4 linked regions of the Homo sapiens genome follow. Changing the gene in region 1 together with any one later gene gives a genetic interaction. Each region holds a gene or a part of one and is shown in the gene's direction. Other genes may lie near its edges.

What was found. Genes that interact genetically often act in the same process or in processes that back each other up.
Region 2: changes in TRPC6 (region 1) and SPTLC1 together harm fitness less than expected from each alone (positive genetic interaction), as found in Homo sapiens cells (one large-scale study listed by BioGRID).
Region 3: changes in TRPC6 (region 1) and TNFRSF10B together harm fitness less than expected from each alone (positive genetic interaction), as found in Homo sapiens cells (one large-scale study listed by BioGRID).
Region 4: changes in TRPC6 (region 1) and ALG6 together harm fitness less than expected from each alone (positive genetic interaction), as found in Homo sapiens cells (one large-scale study listed by BioGRID).

The regions. Positions count from the first base shown.
Region 1 is NC_000011.10:101,577,143-101,581,007, reverse strand, and holds part of TRPC6 (short transient receptor potential channel 6), read left to right. Parts: intron 1-3,865. UniProt on the Homo sapiens protein: Forms a receptor-activated non-selective calcium permeant cation channel. Probably is operated by a phosphatidylinositol second messenger system activated by receptor tyrosine kinases or G-protein coupled receptors.
Region 2 is NC_000009.12:92,052,695-92,056,559, reverse strand, and holds part of SPTLC1 (serine palmitoyltransferase 1), read left to right. Parts: intron 1-1,065; coding exon 1,066-1,155; intron 1,156-3,865. UniProt on the Homo sapiens protein: Component of the serine palmitoyltransferase multisubunit enzyme (SPT) that catalyzes the initial and rate-limiting step in sphingolipid biosynthesis by condensing L-serine and activated acyl-CoA (most commonly palmitoyl-CoA) to form long-chain bases.
Region 3 is NC_000008.11:23,041,313-23,045,177, reverse strand, and holds part of TNFRSF10B (tumor necrosis factor receptor superfamily member 10B isoform 1 precursor), read left to right. Parts: intron 1-1,934; coding exon 1,935-2,040; intron 2,041-3,865. UniProt on the Homo sapiens protein: Receptor for the cytotoxic ligand TNFSF10/TRAIL. The adapter molecule FADD recruits caspase-8 to the activated receptor.
Region 4 is NC_000001.11:63,370,481-63,374,345, forward strand, and holds part of ALG6 (dolichyl pyrophosphate Man9GlcNAc2 alpha-1,3-glucosyltransferase), read left to right. Parts: intron 1-290; 5' UTR 291-497; coding exon 498-579; intron 580-3,865.

The DNA.
Region 1 (3,865 bases):
ATTTTAAGTTTTTCTAGTTGAATAATCAACTAACAGAAAAATTTTAACCAAGAAACAAAAGTACTTCACACCTATGATGTATGAGAAAGAGCTAAAGAAAATTACTCCCTCTGGTAGAGTAGAAATCAACTCTTCCATATGCTTTTGACTTGTGATTTATACAATTTCATAGTGGGAGGTGTATCATTTCTGAAAGTGGCAATCACTAGTACATTTTAGATATGAATATTGCCATTTCTCAAATCATTGAGATTTTCCCTTATAAGATCCCAAGTCTTTGTAAGTTGTCATTTCTGTGGAATAAATTCTATGACTCTTGCCAAAAATTTCTGTTTCATAGTTTTCTTATTTAGAAAAATTTTTTACATATATTTATGGGGCTTCAGTAGTAATGGGGCTTCAGTAGTAATGGGGCTTCAGTTTTTATTTATATTTATGGGGCTTCAGTTTTCAGTAGTAAAACTGAAAATTATGGTAAATTATCTTATTTGTGAGCAATTATGTGCAATAAGGCCTTAATAGTTAAATAAGGCCTTAATAGTTAAAATAGTAATAAATTGAAATGGTGTTCAGAAGAAAATGGCTCAGATTTTCTCTTTATTCAACTTTCAATAGCAAATCAATTAATATTCTCTATTGTGATCAATTTGTAATGGTGATTAGCAAGAAAGGCCCATGTCCTGCCAAGGTCCCAGGAGGCATTTCAGATTTCCTTTATTTAGAACTTTAAAGGTATGTTTACAGTTCATCACTGCTGAACTTGGGGAAGAATCCCAGACATTTAAAAAAGTTAAGCATTTCTAAAATCTCAGGATCTGAAAACACAGTCCAACTAAACTTTCTGCTTGGGAAGGAGTAATTGATTGATTATGAATAATGAAACAGTAAACTGTAAACTAAAGCACTGGCAATTCAGCTGACTGAGACAATCTGAAAAATTTATGGTTACAGACACCTGGCAGTACTGGATAAAAGATTTTAAATGATTTTAAAACATCTCCCAATTTTGTGAAAAATAAAAGGGTAATCTACCATGTGCTAAGAACAAAGACATTAAAAGCGAGTATAGATTGTGAAGTGATGATGTGGTTGCCCTGTGAGTTATGCGTCCCAGTGACGAAGAAGCCTGGAATCTGATGTCCATATGAGACAGAAAGAAGGTAAACTCTTGGTGCCAGATGAGGCAGAGAGCTGGAACTGAGATACCCCTGTGCCCTGCATAAAGCCATTAAATAAAAATGTAGGCTAGAAATATATGCCCACCAGCATACAGTGAGAACAGGAAACTTTAACAGTAAGAAGAAAAGAACACTCCCCTTGAGAATATCGTTTTTGGGGTTTTTGTTTTTATACCCTACCTAACTAGCCTAGAAATAGTCAACATGGAAAATACTCCTGAGGTTCCTATAAGAGTAAAACACAAAATCATTATGAAAGACTAGTATCAAGCATCTAGATTGCCTAGGCTTTTCAAGAAGAAAGCAAGTCCTGCTAAAGATATGCTTGCTATAATGAATAACAAAACACACAAGGAAACAATCGACCAAGAGTGAGAGTCAGTGGACCATGGACTCAATCGACCATGAGTGAGTAGATATAAGACATGCAGTAGTTAGTGGATTTTTTAAAAAGTTGAGATAATACAACCACATGAAAAAGAATCTTTAAAAGTACATATAAATGTTGACAATATAAAAGAATAAATCAAACCTTAAGAAAAAAATGACATTTTTAAAGAAAAGGACAAATAGAACATCTATAAGTAAAAAATACAATTCTTAAAAAAAATTAATGGAAGGGCTAAATGCAGATTAGAACATAATTGATGATAATACCCAAAATGCAGAGACATAAAAAATATTTTGTATGAACATCGTTAAGAGTAATGGAGCTAGAAGGTAAGAGTTCCAGGAAAAGAAAACATATAGAAGTGGGAGAGGCAAGACTTGAATAGATAATGGGTAAGGATTTTCCAGAAATAATGAATTTTCATGTTTATGAAGTATACCAATATTATTGTAAAACAGAAAAAAAACCCCATTTAAACATATCATTTAAATTGCAGAACACCAAAGACAAGAGGAAATACTAAAAATTAAAGAAAACAGAGATTTGAATGAGAGAGTTTTAAAATTCAAAGTATTTACAGTGGAAATGCACTCATAATATATTTTGATATTACCTTGGTTAAAGAATGTATAGCTTGTAAGAACTATGGCTTTTCCATTACATAAAAGGTTTACTCTCTTGTTATTAATGGAGTCAGTGCTCCATTGCTGATAAGGTCTCCGATGGATATGTACTAAATATTTTTAAAAGGTGACTTATTGCATCACAGTCTTAGAGGAAACTCAAAGTGATTCTTAATTATATCCTCTCACATGAAAAAAACAAAAAATGACTTTTAAAAAATGGGTCACAGATCCTTTAAAATTTTTATTGACTTCAAGAGGGTTTTGGGTGACCTGAACCCCATTTATGAAAATAAGATCCAGAGTTTGAATTCCCAGTTTAAGAAAGGTAATGTAATGTTAGAGACCACAAGTAAAATCCCCCACATATTGTTTTCTTTTCTCCAGGCAAAAAAAGTTAGTATTGAACACATTGATAATAAGGGAATGAAAAATTCAGACTGTAGGCTAGAGAATCTTTCCTGATATTACTTGCCAATAGGATAACTAGTCTCTTAAAGAAGTTTAAGATTGAAGAACATGGACTCAGGCCTATGCATCATATTAAATTATTATATCCTTGTTATCTCTCCCTTGTTTTTGGCAACTATGTTCATTGAAACATCTGTTACACATTTTTACATTTATTTGTTCACACGTCCTTTTCCTCTGACTAGAATGTAAGCCACAAGAAGTGGGTCTGTCCTTCATCCCCCTATCTTAACACAGTGCCTAGCAGAGAGAAGGTACCATTTAATCTATTCCTCAACAAAGAGATTTCCTCCTCCTTGATATTTATTCAAATAAGGAATAAAATGATGCCAGCTACTTTAATGAAATAGCATCTGGATCAGCTAAGTTGGGCAGAAGAGTGAATGTCCATATCAAAAGAGATACCTATATCTTGTATTCCAGCTGCCTGTCACAAAGACTCATCTTTCAGGGAATCTTTCACCAATCACTACTGCCACCAGCATACTACTCTTCTTTTAGCTCTCTAGCCTGAGGCTCTTCCGTTAAAGTTCCCTCTGCACACCTGAGGCGAGGCTATATCTTTACCAAAGAGAATTAATAAAAAGGGAAAAACTCCTGGCTGGCTATAACTGCTCTTCCAGCTCATTTATGGAGTCTCCTGGGGATTGACCCTTGCCTGGCCCCAAGCATTATCTATCTGGCAGCGAGCGTTCTTGTTTTCCCTCTGCAGACCGTCCTCAATCAATCTAGTCCTTTGTCCTAGCCCAGACTGAAGAATGACTGCCTCCCCACCTCCCGCCACAACCTTTTTCTTTGGTGTAATATCTATTTTCCAAACTTTATTTCTTTTTAAAATTCTCCTTCTTTCCTAGATGATTGACATTAGATATGTCTACTCCTTTAAGCAAAGATACCACCACTGACCTACAGAAGTGTGGCTTTACTCTCTGACCCCAAAGGGGCAGTCACATCAGAACATGACAGTCCAGCAGCAGTACGAGGTATTTCCAAATAAAATTAAAGGGCTGATTTTCTTAACAAGACATATTTATTGAATGGTAAGTGAAATCAATAAAAGAGAACATGTGCGACACAATGATTTCTTATACATATGTAGTGGTCTAGAACGCAGAAAGAATCCTATAATCTAGTATACCCTTTGAAATGGCATCTATAACCATAAAGCCAAGACCTAGACTTTGGTGAAAGATTGCAGTGTG
Region 2 (3,865 bases), on another chromosome or scaffold:
GTGTGTGAAGGTGTGTGTTTTTTGAAAAGATCTCTGCCGGGCGTGGTGGCTCAAAGCTGTAATCCCAGCAGTTTGAGAGGCCGAGGTCAGTAATCAAGAGGTCAGGAGTTCAAGACCAGCCTGGCCAACATGGTGAAACCCCATCTCTACTAAAAATACAAAAATCAGCTGAGCGTGGTGGCGGGTGCCTGTAATCCCAGCTACTCGGGAGGCTGAGGCAGAGAATTGCTTGAACCCTGGAGGCGGAGGTTGCAGCGAGCAGAGATGGCGCCACTGCACTCCCACCTGGGTGACAGTGAGACTCCATCTCAAAAAAAAGAAAAGGAGACCTCTCTACCCCACCACCTGGGAACATCATTGGACAAGCTCATAGTCAAATTTTACTTGATCCGATAATACATCAGTGGGGAGTGAGGAGGGAACAGGGTTGCCCCTTTTTTTGGGAGGTGAAGGAAAACGGTTTGAGTTTTTTAACTTTTTGTTATGGAAAAATGCCAACATATAAGAAGGAAACACAGTGGTATAGTGAAGCCCCCTGTACCCTTCTCCCAGCTTTGTTATCAGCATTACATCATTCTTGTGCCATCTGTTCCTCACCCCATCTTCATGATGATGACCTTCATTATAGTTGTTTTGGGTAAAATTGACAGACATTGAATCACATGAATGCAGCCATACAATTTTGACCAGTGATTATACCCATGTAACCCAGGAATGTCAGCCCCATTATGATGTAAAACATTCCCATTTCTTTAGAAAGTCCCTTAGGCCCCTTCCCAGTTGGAGGTTTGGAGGGTTTTGTTTGTGTTTTAATATTCTCAGAGGGCCTAATTAGTTTGTGTGTGTGGCGGGTCACCTAGCTAATGCTGTGAGCTGAAAAACGTCTGAGAGAAGATAGTACTGTTGTTCATCTCAAAATAACCCATCACAAACACTGAGCTTTCAATTCATTCAGAATATTTTTTTAGGAATAAATCTTGTAAGGTGAAAGTGCTGGGGAATATGTAACAGATCTTGTCTTCAGAGTTACTGAAATGTAAGATGTCTGCTTTTTCTCTTTTAAAGAATCCTCGCAAGGCTCGTGTAACTCGGCGTTTCATTGTAGTAGAAGGATTGTATATGAATACTGGAACTATTTGTCCTCTTCCAGAATTGGTAAGCAACCATGTTCAGCTGTAATTTTAATATTTGGACTATTTGACAGATGTGCCTTTTGTTTATGACCGCTTTTAGTGTATAACGTCTGCGTTGCTTTGCGCATTAGGCCTCATAAGCATATTTTGCTCAGATCAGGGAAGAAGAACAACACTGAATGCCAGTGCTGGCCTTCAAAGAGTAATCAAGACTGCTCTGTTGCCCAGGCTGGAGTGCAGTGGTGTGAACACAGCTCACTGCAGCCTTACCCTCCTGGGCTCAAGTGATCCTTCCACCTTAGCTTTCTGAGTTAGCTGGGACTACAGGCACATGCCACCACACCTGGCTGATTTTTCCCTTTTTTGTGGAGTAGGGGTCTCACTGCGTTACCCAGGCTGTTCTCAAACTCTTGGGCTCAAGCGATCCTCCTGCCTCAGCCTGCCAAAGTGCTGGTATTACAGGTATGAGCCACCACACCTGGCCAAAACTTAGCTTTAGCTTTTTTTTTCTCCCCCGCAAGACAGTCTTGCCCTGTCGTCAGGCTGGAGTGCAGTGGCGCCATCTTGGCTCACTGCAACCTCCTCCCCGAGGTTCAAGCAGTTCTCCTGCCTCAGCCTCCCGAGTAGCTGGAACTATAGGCGTGCGCAGACACCCCCAGCTAATTTTTGTATTTTTAGTAGAGACGGGGTTTCACCATGTCGGCTAGGATGGTCTCAATCTCTTGACCTCATGATCTGCCCGCCTGGGCCTCCCAAAATGCTGGGATTACAGGCATGAGCCACTGAGTCGGCCATACGTAGCTTTTAAGATCCAGCTTTATTTAGGTGAAATCAACGTATAAAATACACCTACTTTAAGGGTAAAGTTTGATAAGTTTTGACAGATGTATATACATCTGTATCACTGCAGCCATCCACCACCACAGTCAAGATACGGAATATTTTTATGTAAGACAATGTTTATCCAGAAAGAAAACTTTATCCAGAAAGCTTCCTGATGCCTCTTGGTAGTGAGTACCCATGTTGGCCCCAGACAGCCATTAATCTACTTTCTATTCCTGTAGATTAGTTTTACCTTTTGTAGAATTGCATATGAATGAAAGCATAGCTTGCTTTTTTGTTTTTTTGTGTTTTGTTTTTTGTTTGAGATGGAGTTTCACTTATGTTGCCCAGGCTGGAGTGCAATGGCACGATCTCGGCTCACCGCAACCTCTGGCTCCTGGGTTCAAGTGATTCTCCTGCCTCAGCCTCCCAGGTAGCTGGGATTACAAGCATGTGCCACCATGCCCGGCTAATTTTGTATTTTTAGTAGAGACAAGGTTTCTTCATGTTGGTCAGGCTGGTCTTGAACTCCCAACCTCAGGTGATCCACCCTCCTTGGCCTCCCAAAGTGCTGAGATTACAGGCGTGAGCCACCACGCATGGCCAAAACTTAGCTTTTTAATAGTGAAAGCAGCATAACTGTTTTTAGAAACCATGACCATTGAGATTTCCTTTATTGAGGTGAAATTCACATAACACAAAATTAACCAATTTAAATTGTACAGGACAGTGACATTTATTACATTTACCATGTGTGCAACCATCAACTTTAGGTCAAAAACCTTTTCATGACTCACGAAGAAGACCTCAAACCCATTAAACAGTCACTCCCCATTTTCTTCTCCCTCTAGCTCCCAGCAACTACCAATCTGCTTTCTGTCTCTATGGATTTACCTTTTCTGGTTATTTCCTATAAATGGCATCATATAATATATGACCTTTTCTTTCTGGCTTCATTCACTTGATGTTTTTAAAGTTCATTAACATTGTATACCATGTATCAGTATTTCATACCTTTTTAATGCTGAGTTATAGTCCATTGCATGGATAATACCACGTTTTGTTTTATATGTTCATCCACAGATGGATATTTGGGTTCTTTCTACCTTTTTGCTATTGCAAATAGTGCTGTTGTGAACATTTGTGTACAGGTATTTGTTTGAATTCCTGTTTTCAGTTCTTTTATGTATATATCTAGCAGGGTAATTGCTGGATTATATGGTAATTCTGTGTTTAACTTAATAAGGAACTGACATACTGTTTTCAACAGCGATTGCACCATTTTACATTCCTATCAGCTATATACCAGGGTTACAGTTTCTCTACATCTTTGTCAGCACTTATATTTTCCAGGGTTTTTTGTTGGTTTGTTTTAGCCACCCTAGTGAGCATGAGGTAGTATCTCACTGTGGTTTTGATCCTGTTTCCCCCAAATGGCTAATGATGCTGAGCCTCTTTTCTTGTTTTTTTTTTTGTTTGTTTGTTTGTTTGGCCATGCGTATACCTTTGGAGACATATCTATTCAGGTGCTTTGCCCATTTTTTAAATTGGGTTGTTTTTTTGTTTTTAAAAGAATTCCTTGTATATTCTGGATACTAGATGTTTATCAGATACATGATTTGCAAATATTTTCTCCTATTTTGTGGGGGTTTGTTTCATTTATTTGATACTGTCCTTTGACACACAGTTTTTAAAAATTTTGATGATGTCCAGTTTATGTGTTTTGTTGTTGCTTGTGCTTTTGTGTTTTATTTTAAAATCTTTGTTTAATCTGGCCGGGCACGGTGGCTCACGCCTGTAATCCCAGCACTTTGGGAGGCCGAGGCAGGTGAATCATTTGAGGTCAGGAGTTCGAGACCAGCCTGGCCAACATGGTAAAACCCCGTCTCTACTAAAAATACAAAAAAATT
Region 3 (3,865 bases), on another chromosome or scaffold:
GCTTACTGCCACTTTCACCTCCCAGGTTCAAGTGATTTTTGTGCCCCAGCCACCCAAGTAGCTGGGATTACAGATGCACACCTCCATGCCTGGCTTTTTTTTTTTTTTTTTTTTTTTGTATTTTATTAGGGACGAGGTTTTGCCATGTTGGCCAGGCTGGTCTCCAACTCCTGGCCTCAAGTGATCCATCCGTCTCGGCCTCCCAAAATGCTGGGATTATAGGCATGAGCCACTGCACCTGGCCTCCTCATTCATTTTTGATTTAATTTATTTGTCTTCTTTCTTTTTTCTTAGTTAGTCTAGTTAAAGTTTAGTGATTTCATTTATTTTTTCAAAAAACTAACAGAATTTTGATAATCTTTTGTATTTTTTTCAGTCTCTATTTATTTTTGCTCTGATTTTTATTATTTCTTTTGTTCTGCTAACTGTGGGCTTAGTGTATCTTTTCTTCTATTTCCTTGAGGTACAACATTAAGTCTTGTATTTGAGATCTTTCTTCTTTTTTGATGTAGGCGTTTATTGCCATTTCCTCTTAAAACTGCTTTTGCTGCATCCCATACATTTGGTTATGTTATGTTTCCATTTCATTTTCTAATATACTCTTAAAATTCCCTTTTGATTTCCTCTTTGACACATTGGCTATTCAGGAGCTTGTTACCATTCAAGTTCTTTGTTCATTTCTTAATCACATTGTTGGCTTTTTGTTGTTGTTGTTGAGTTGGAGTTTTTTATATATTTTAGATATTAACCTTTTATCAGATATACAACTAGCAAATGTTTTCCTCTTCCTGTGGGTTGCCCCTTCACTGTTGATCATCATTGGATGCACAAAAGTTTTTAATTTTTACATAGTGCAATTTATCTACTTTTTTTCCTATATTGCTTGTGTTTTGGGGATCACATTCAAGAAATCATTGCCAAATCCAAGGTCAGGAAGAATAGTTCCTATGTTTTCTTCTAAGTTTTAGGGTTTTCACTTTTATGTTAGATTTTGGATCCATTTTGAGTTAATTTTTGTATACGTGTAAGTTAAAGGTCCGAGGTCATTGTTTTGTGATGAGTCAATGTCTAGATTTCCCAAGACCATTTTTAAAAAGATTGTCCTCTCAATTAAATGGTCTTTATACCTTTGCCAAAAATTACTTGATCATATACAGTCATGCACCACATAACAACATTTCTGTCAACAACAGACTGCATATGTGATGGTGGCTCCATGCAATTATGTAACATGCTACACAGGTTTGTAGCCTAGGAGCAAAAGGCTATACCATATAGGCCAGGTGTGTCATAGGATACACCATCTAGGTTTGTGTAAGTACACTCTTCTGATGTTCACACAACACAATTGCCTAATGACCCTTTGCTCAGAACAATGTTGAGCAATACATGGTTGTACGTGCAAGTTCATTTCTGGGCTCTCTGGTCTATATGTCAGGCACCTTTTAAATCAGAAGTTCACTATTTAATGTTTGATCCTGTATCCCAATTTTTTAAGTTTGCTATATTATAACCCCCATTTATAAAAATGTGTGTCTGTGTGTATGTCTGTGTGAGAGAGAATAAGAGAAAGAGAGAAAGAGAGAATAGGCATACCTATGGAAAAATAGTGGAACTAAATGAGACAAAATATTAATGGATGCTATCTTTAGCTGAGAATATCACGTGTGGTCTGTGTATTCTTGTAAAAACTTTCCTTGCCCACATTTTCTGGAATGAACATGTTTAGAAGAGTTTTGCAGGTGTATGTTACTTGGCCTTCCCTGAAATATGAAGGGACAAACAAACACTAAAGGATGTTTGAGAGGTGAGAGCTGCAAGAAAGATGAGGGTTCTGTTTAGCTTGGGTGCCTGGGCTCAAGAGAATGTGAGTGGATCCTGGGAGGGGTGAGGTCTGGAAGCCACTCATGCCCATCCCTGCTTTGTCCCCACAGGTCTCAGCTGAGTCTGCTCTGATCACCCAACAAGACCTAGCTCCCCAGCAGAGAGCGGCCCCACAACAAAAGAGGTCCAGCCCCTCAGAGGGATTGTGTCCACCTGGTATGTTCAAGATGGGTCTCTAATCCTTGCCCCTCCTCCCCTTGTCTCCATGAGCTTCCAGTCTGTTTCCTTTGCACTTCCTTGTTCTTTATTCCACAGAGAGGCATTGGGTGCCTCCAGTTCAAGGCTCTGTCCTTCTGGAGCCTTCCTGCTAGGATGGTATCAAGACACACAAATGAATGAGACAGCCAAAGAAACTGATAGGAACCTTGAGAGAGAATTGAGTGGGACAGAGATGGGGCTGGTGAGGCCTCCAGGCAATGGTGACTTTGGGCTGACATCCGGAGGAGGGCAGGGCCAGAGGTTCAGAGAGCCAGGAAGAGTGCTCCTAGGAGGGTTCCACTGGAACAATTGCCAGGGGGCAAGAGTTGGAGAAGATGGAGCAACAGCAGGGGGCTGCTGTGGGGAGTGGAGGGTTAGGAAGTTAGAGAGACACGTGGGGTCAGATCCCACACAGATGAAGCTGGATTTTATTTCATGAGTGATGGATGTCCCTGAGAAGTTTTCAGCAGAGGGCCACCAGCATCGGATGTACATCTTGAGTGCCCACTCCTGGACTGAACCGGAGCAAGACAGGAAGCAGGTGGAGGGCCTTGAGTGTGAGGCGCTCCCCTGGGATGTTATGTGGTGTCCCGTAAGGTCATTTGAGCCCCCAGAGATGCAGCAGGAACCTGGCCTGAAGTGTGCTTGACTGTTGTGTTCGCCTCGCACTTCTTCCCCCTTTTCCCCCATGTGTATGAGTTAGGAATTGATTGCTGCATGAAGGTTTCCAGGGCAGGCAAGTGTGGCAAGCAGTGGCTTTTAAAATCCATTTACAAAGTTGCATTTCTTTTCCATGACTAAGGGCCACAGGAAAGGCTTGCCTGAGGGCAAACCCTCACATTGCACATGTGGGCTTGCCAGGAGCAGAGCATGGAGAAGGAAGAACCCAGCGTGAAGCAGACACAAACTCATCTGTAAATGCTCCTATTGCTGTGGTCCAGGGTCAAGACCAGGAAGCAGGACGGGAATAGGAAGGACTCAAGACATATTTGGGGTGTGGATGGATGACGTGTGGGGAATGAGGACAATCGAGGCACCAAATTCAACTGCTCAGGGTAACTTGGCCTCTGAGGGGACAGTGTGTGGCAGGGCTAGCAGTACACATTTGGGGACCCTAGCACATAGGTGATGCTTGAAGCCGCTGTCTTGAGTGTGTCCACCTGGAAGAAGTTGTAAATACTGAGGAGGGGCACAACTGAGCCCATGAGGATTTGAAGTTGGAGACGATAGGCCAGGGAGACAGGACTGCAATGGGCTGAGCAGGAGCAGTTGGAGAACTTCCATCCTAGAGGAGAGATGGCCCTTCCAGCCACAGGGAGCAGGCCATAGCAAGTGTCAAGGACTGAGATGTGGAAACTCCTCGAAATGTGCATTTCTCTTCCTGTGAATGAGGTCAAGAATCTGTTCATGACACAGACACTGTTTGTACACTGGTTCTCCTAGGTTTTCTTCACTCCTAGTAAGAGGTTAGGTTTTTTTTTTTTTTTTTTTTAAATCATTGAGTCACATGAATTCTTACAGATTAGGGAAATTATACATTGATTGATTGATTGATTGACTGATTGAGATAGGATTTCACTCTGTTGCCCAGGCTGGAGTGCGGTGGCAGGATCATAGCTCACTGTAGCCTCAACCACTTGGGCTCAAGCGATCCTCTCACCTCGGCCTTCCAAAGTGTTGGGATTACAGGCGTGAGCCACTGCGCTGGGTCCAAAATTCTAATAAAAATTCCCATATAACGCCGGGCGCAGTGACTCACACCTGTAATCCCAGCACTTCGAGA
Region 4 (3,865 bases), on another chromosome or scaffold:
ATTATCTACATATGTGTTGTTTTTCTTTTCTCAGAAATATTCCCTTGTGAGAGTAAATCTTTACTATATCTTTAGATGTATTGAGTCCCATTTAATAGGGAGATCCACCTTTTGATGTATATTCCCAACTAAAGGACTAGGGAATAAGGAACTTAAAATACCACGTTTCCTTCACATTCCTTCCCACTACCCCTCCCCTCGAATTCTCTATCCTTCTACTTGGTTTACTGGGTTCATTGTTGTAGGTACTGTACTCAGCTGAATCTTGATATCTTTTTTTTTCCCCTTAGGATACTTCTACATAGACATAATCAAGTTTTGACTATTTGGAAACCAAGCATCATTAAAATTCTCTCAAACTCCTAATTGCGAAGAATCGATAACATTTCAAGAAGTGATAACATTTCTCTGAACAAGAAAAGAAGTGATTGACCACGTTTTAAAAGTACTCTGGCACTGGTGCTGTGTTTTCTTCCCCTCCCTAAATTTGAAGAACTATGGAGAAATGGTACTTGATGACAGTAGTGGTTTTAATAGGACTAACAGTACGATGGACAGTGTCTCTTAATTCTTATTCAGGTAATACATTTTTACTGGTTAAAAAAAAAACGAAATTTTCCTTTGAATAGGTGTTTGTTTGGGGAAAAGTTTACCATTTTCTGACCAGTACAGAGAAGAATTTCAGGCCTTTTTGATATGGTTGAGAAAATACATTTAAATGTCCAGTTCTAATAGAAAGAATATGGATAACAGCTAAATAGAAGCATGCGCTTTGTGATGTGAGAAAGCAAAAATGTGTTCTAACAGGTAAGATGACAAATTGAGAAATGATTCTGTATTAAACATTGAAGAGGAAAATGAGCTAGCACTTCAAGGGAGGGGTGGAGTCTGTTTAGGGTAGAGAAGCATATTACTGGATTAAAGGGAAGCGATCAGTGAACAAGAATAAAATTGGGAATGAGAGAGGGGGAATTGATGGAGTGTGGTCCTGGTGTGTTGGATTGGCTTAAATGTAACTCTGCAGGTACCTATTTAGCACGTCTCATGTTCCCGGCACTGTGCTAGCTTCTAAAAATACAAGATGAATAGCCAATACTCAGAGGGCCCACATTTTATTTTATTTTATTTTATTTTATTTTTTTGATACGGAGCCTCGCTGTGTCGCCCAGGCTGGAGTTCAGTGGCGCAATCTTGGCTCACTGTGACCTCTGCCTCCCGGGTTCAAGCAATTCTTCTACCTCAACCTTCCGAGTAGCTGGGATTACAGATGCACGCGACCATGCCCAGCTAATTTTTGCATTTTTAGTAGAGACGGGGTTTCACCATGCTGGCCAGGCTGGTGTCGAACTCCTGACCTCGTGATCCACTTGCCTCGGCCTCCCAAAGTGCTGGGATTACAGGCGTGAGCCACCGCACCCAGCTAGAGGGCCCACATTTTAATAGTTAAATGGTCACAACAGAGGGTGATAATTATAATGTAGGAGTATGTGTGAGGTACAGAGTTAATAGAGAGGTAAATGATCAAGATGCATTAGAGAAAACTTCAGGAAAGATGTTTGCATTCAAGATTTGAAGGATGAGTCAGAATTTTCTAGGCAAATGAAGTGGAGAAGGTATTATAGAGTGCAGGAACTTGTGCAACAGACATGGTGTCACAGAGCATGGTTATTATAAGTATTGTATTTGAGTTGCATGAAACATAGGAACAAAAAGGATGAGGAGAGAGTGACCAGAGAATAGGTTATACAATTAGCTGGGCAAATTATTTCGTTGTAGAAAAATAACTTATGTTAGTGAAAAAGGGTCATAGGAAAAAGAGATAGGTAAAGAGAAAAATGAGACAATAATATTAATAGTTGTAAGAGCTATGATATATACACAGACACATATATATACACAGACACACATTTACTCTCTACTTACACATTTACTATATACGAAGATACATATATGGAAATTTATATATATGTGTGTCTATATAGTAAATGTGTATATACACAGACACACACATATATAGGTATTTTATGCATACCTATATATGTGTGTGTCTGTATATAGTAAATGTATATATACACAGACATATATATGGATATACACAGACACACATATATATAAATATCTGTATATATGTGTGTATATAGCAAATGTGTATGTAGAGAATAAATGTGTATGTGTCTGTGTATATCGTAGCTTTTTTTTGAGAAAAAAAAGCTCTGTCACCCAGGCTGGAGTGCAGTGGCGCAATCTTGGCTCACTGTAATCTCCGCCTCCCAGTTTCAAGCTATTCTCCTGCCTCAGCCTCCTAAGTAGCTGGGATTACAGGTGCATGCCATCATGCCCAGCTAATTTTTGTATTTTTAGTAGAGACGAGGTTTCACCATGTTGGTCAGGCTGGTCTTGAACTCCTGACCTCGTGATCTGCCTGCCTCGGCCTCCTGAAGTGCTGGGATTACAGGCATGAGCCACCGTGCCTGGCCTGTAGCTCTTACATATAGATGTATACACACACACATACATATATGTTTTGTAAGACTTTTTTTTTTGGAGACAGGGTTTCACTTTCATCGTCCAGGCTAAAGTGCAGTGGCACAATGTTGGCTCATGGCAGCCTCCGCCTCCTTGGTGCAGTGATTCTGCTGCCTCAGCCTACCAAGTAGCTGGAAATACAGGCGTGCACCACGACGCCTGGCTAATTTTTGTATTTTTTGTAGACACAGGGTCTCACCATGTTGCCCAGGCTGGTCTTGAACTCCTGAGCTCAAGTGATCTGCCTGCCCCAGCCTCCCAAAGTGCTGGGATTACAGGTGTGAGCCACTATGTCCAGTCAATATTTTAACCAGACTATAGTTTCTCTTTTCTCTTAAAACATTTTTTTTTGGGGGGAGGCTAAGGTGGGTGGATTGCCTGAGCTCAGGAGTTCAAGACCAGCCTGAGCAACATGGCAAAACCCCGTCTCTATTAAAAATACAAAAATTAGCCGGGCGCACACCTGTAATCCCAGCTGCTGGGGAGGCTGAGGCACGAGAATTGCTTAAGCCCAGGAGATGGAGGTTGCAGTGAGCCAAGATCATCCCATTACACTTTAGCCTGGGCGACAGAGCAAGACTCTGCCTCAAAAAAAAACAAAACAACACACTTTTTTGGGCTATTTTTATTTTTCAATTTAATTTAATTTACATTTTTTTTTTTTTTTTTTTTGAGACAGGGTCTCCCCCTGTTGCCCAGGCTGGAGTGCAGTGGCATGATCTTGGCTCACTGCAGCCTTGACCTCTTGGGACCACAGGCATGTGGCTAATTGTCTGGCTAATTGTTTTGATTTTTAGTAAAGATGAGGTCTCACTGTGTTGCCTAGGCTGGTCTTGAACTCCTGGGCTCGAGCAATACTCCTGCCTCAGCCTCCCAAAGTACTGGGATTATAGGTGTGAGCCACTGCGCCCAATTTTTTCAAATACTCTGGCTTAATATAGTTTCTCTTTATTCAGCATGAATTTAAAGGATTTATAGAAAGAACTTGTAAGAACTACTATATTTTGAGTATGAGTATTTTCTTTAGTATTTACCACAACCACTGAAGACAGGTAATATCTTCGATTTACAAATGGAAAATGAGACAACCAATAAATGACAACTGGGATTCAAATATAGTTGTATTTAATTCCACAATCAGTGCTCTTATGACTGTGCTCTGTGGCTTCTGAATGAGTTCGAGGAATATGGAGGAAGTAAAATCACTTAAATGTAGCAGTTGACTTGGGCTCAAATCTTAGCTCTTTCACCTGTTAGTTGCCTGATCTTGGGGAATTTATTTAATCTCCTTGAGCCTCTTCTATCAAGTGGGGTATTAATACATACTTTAAGAGGGTTC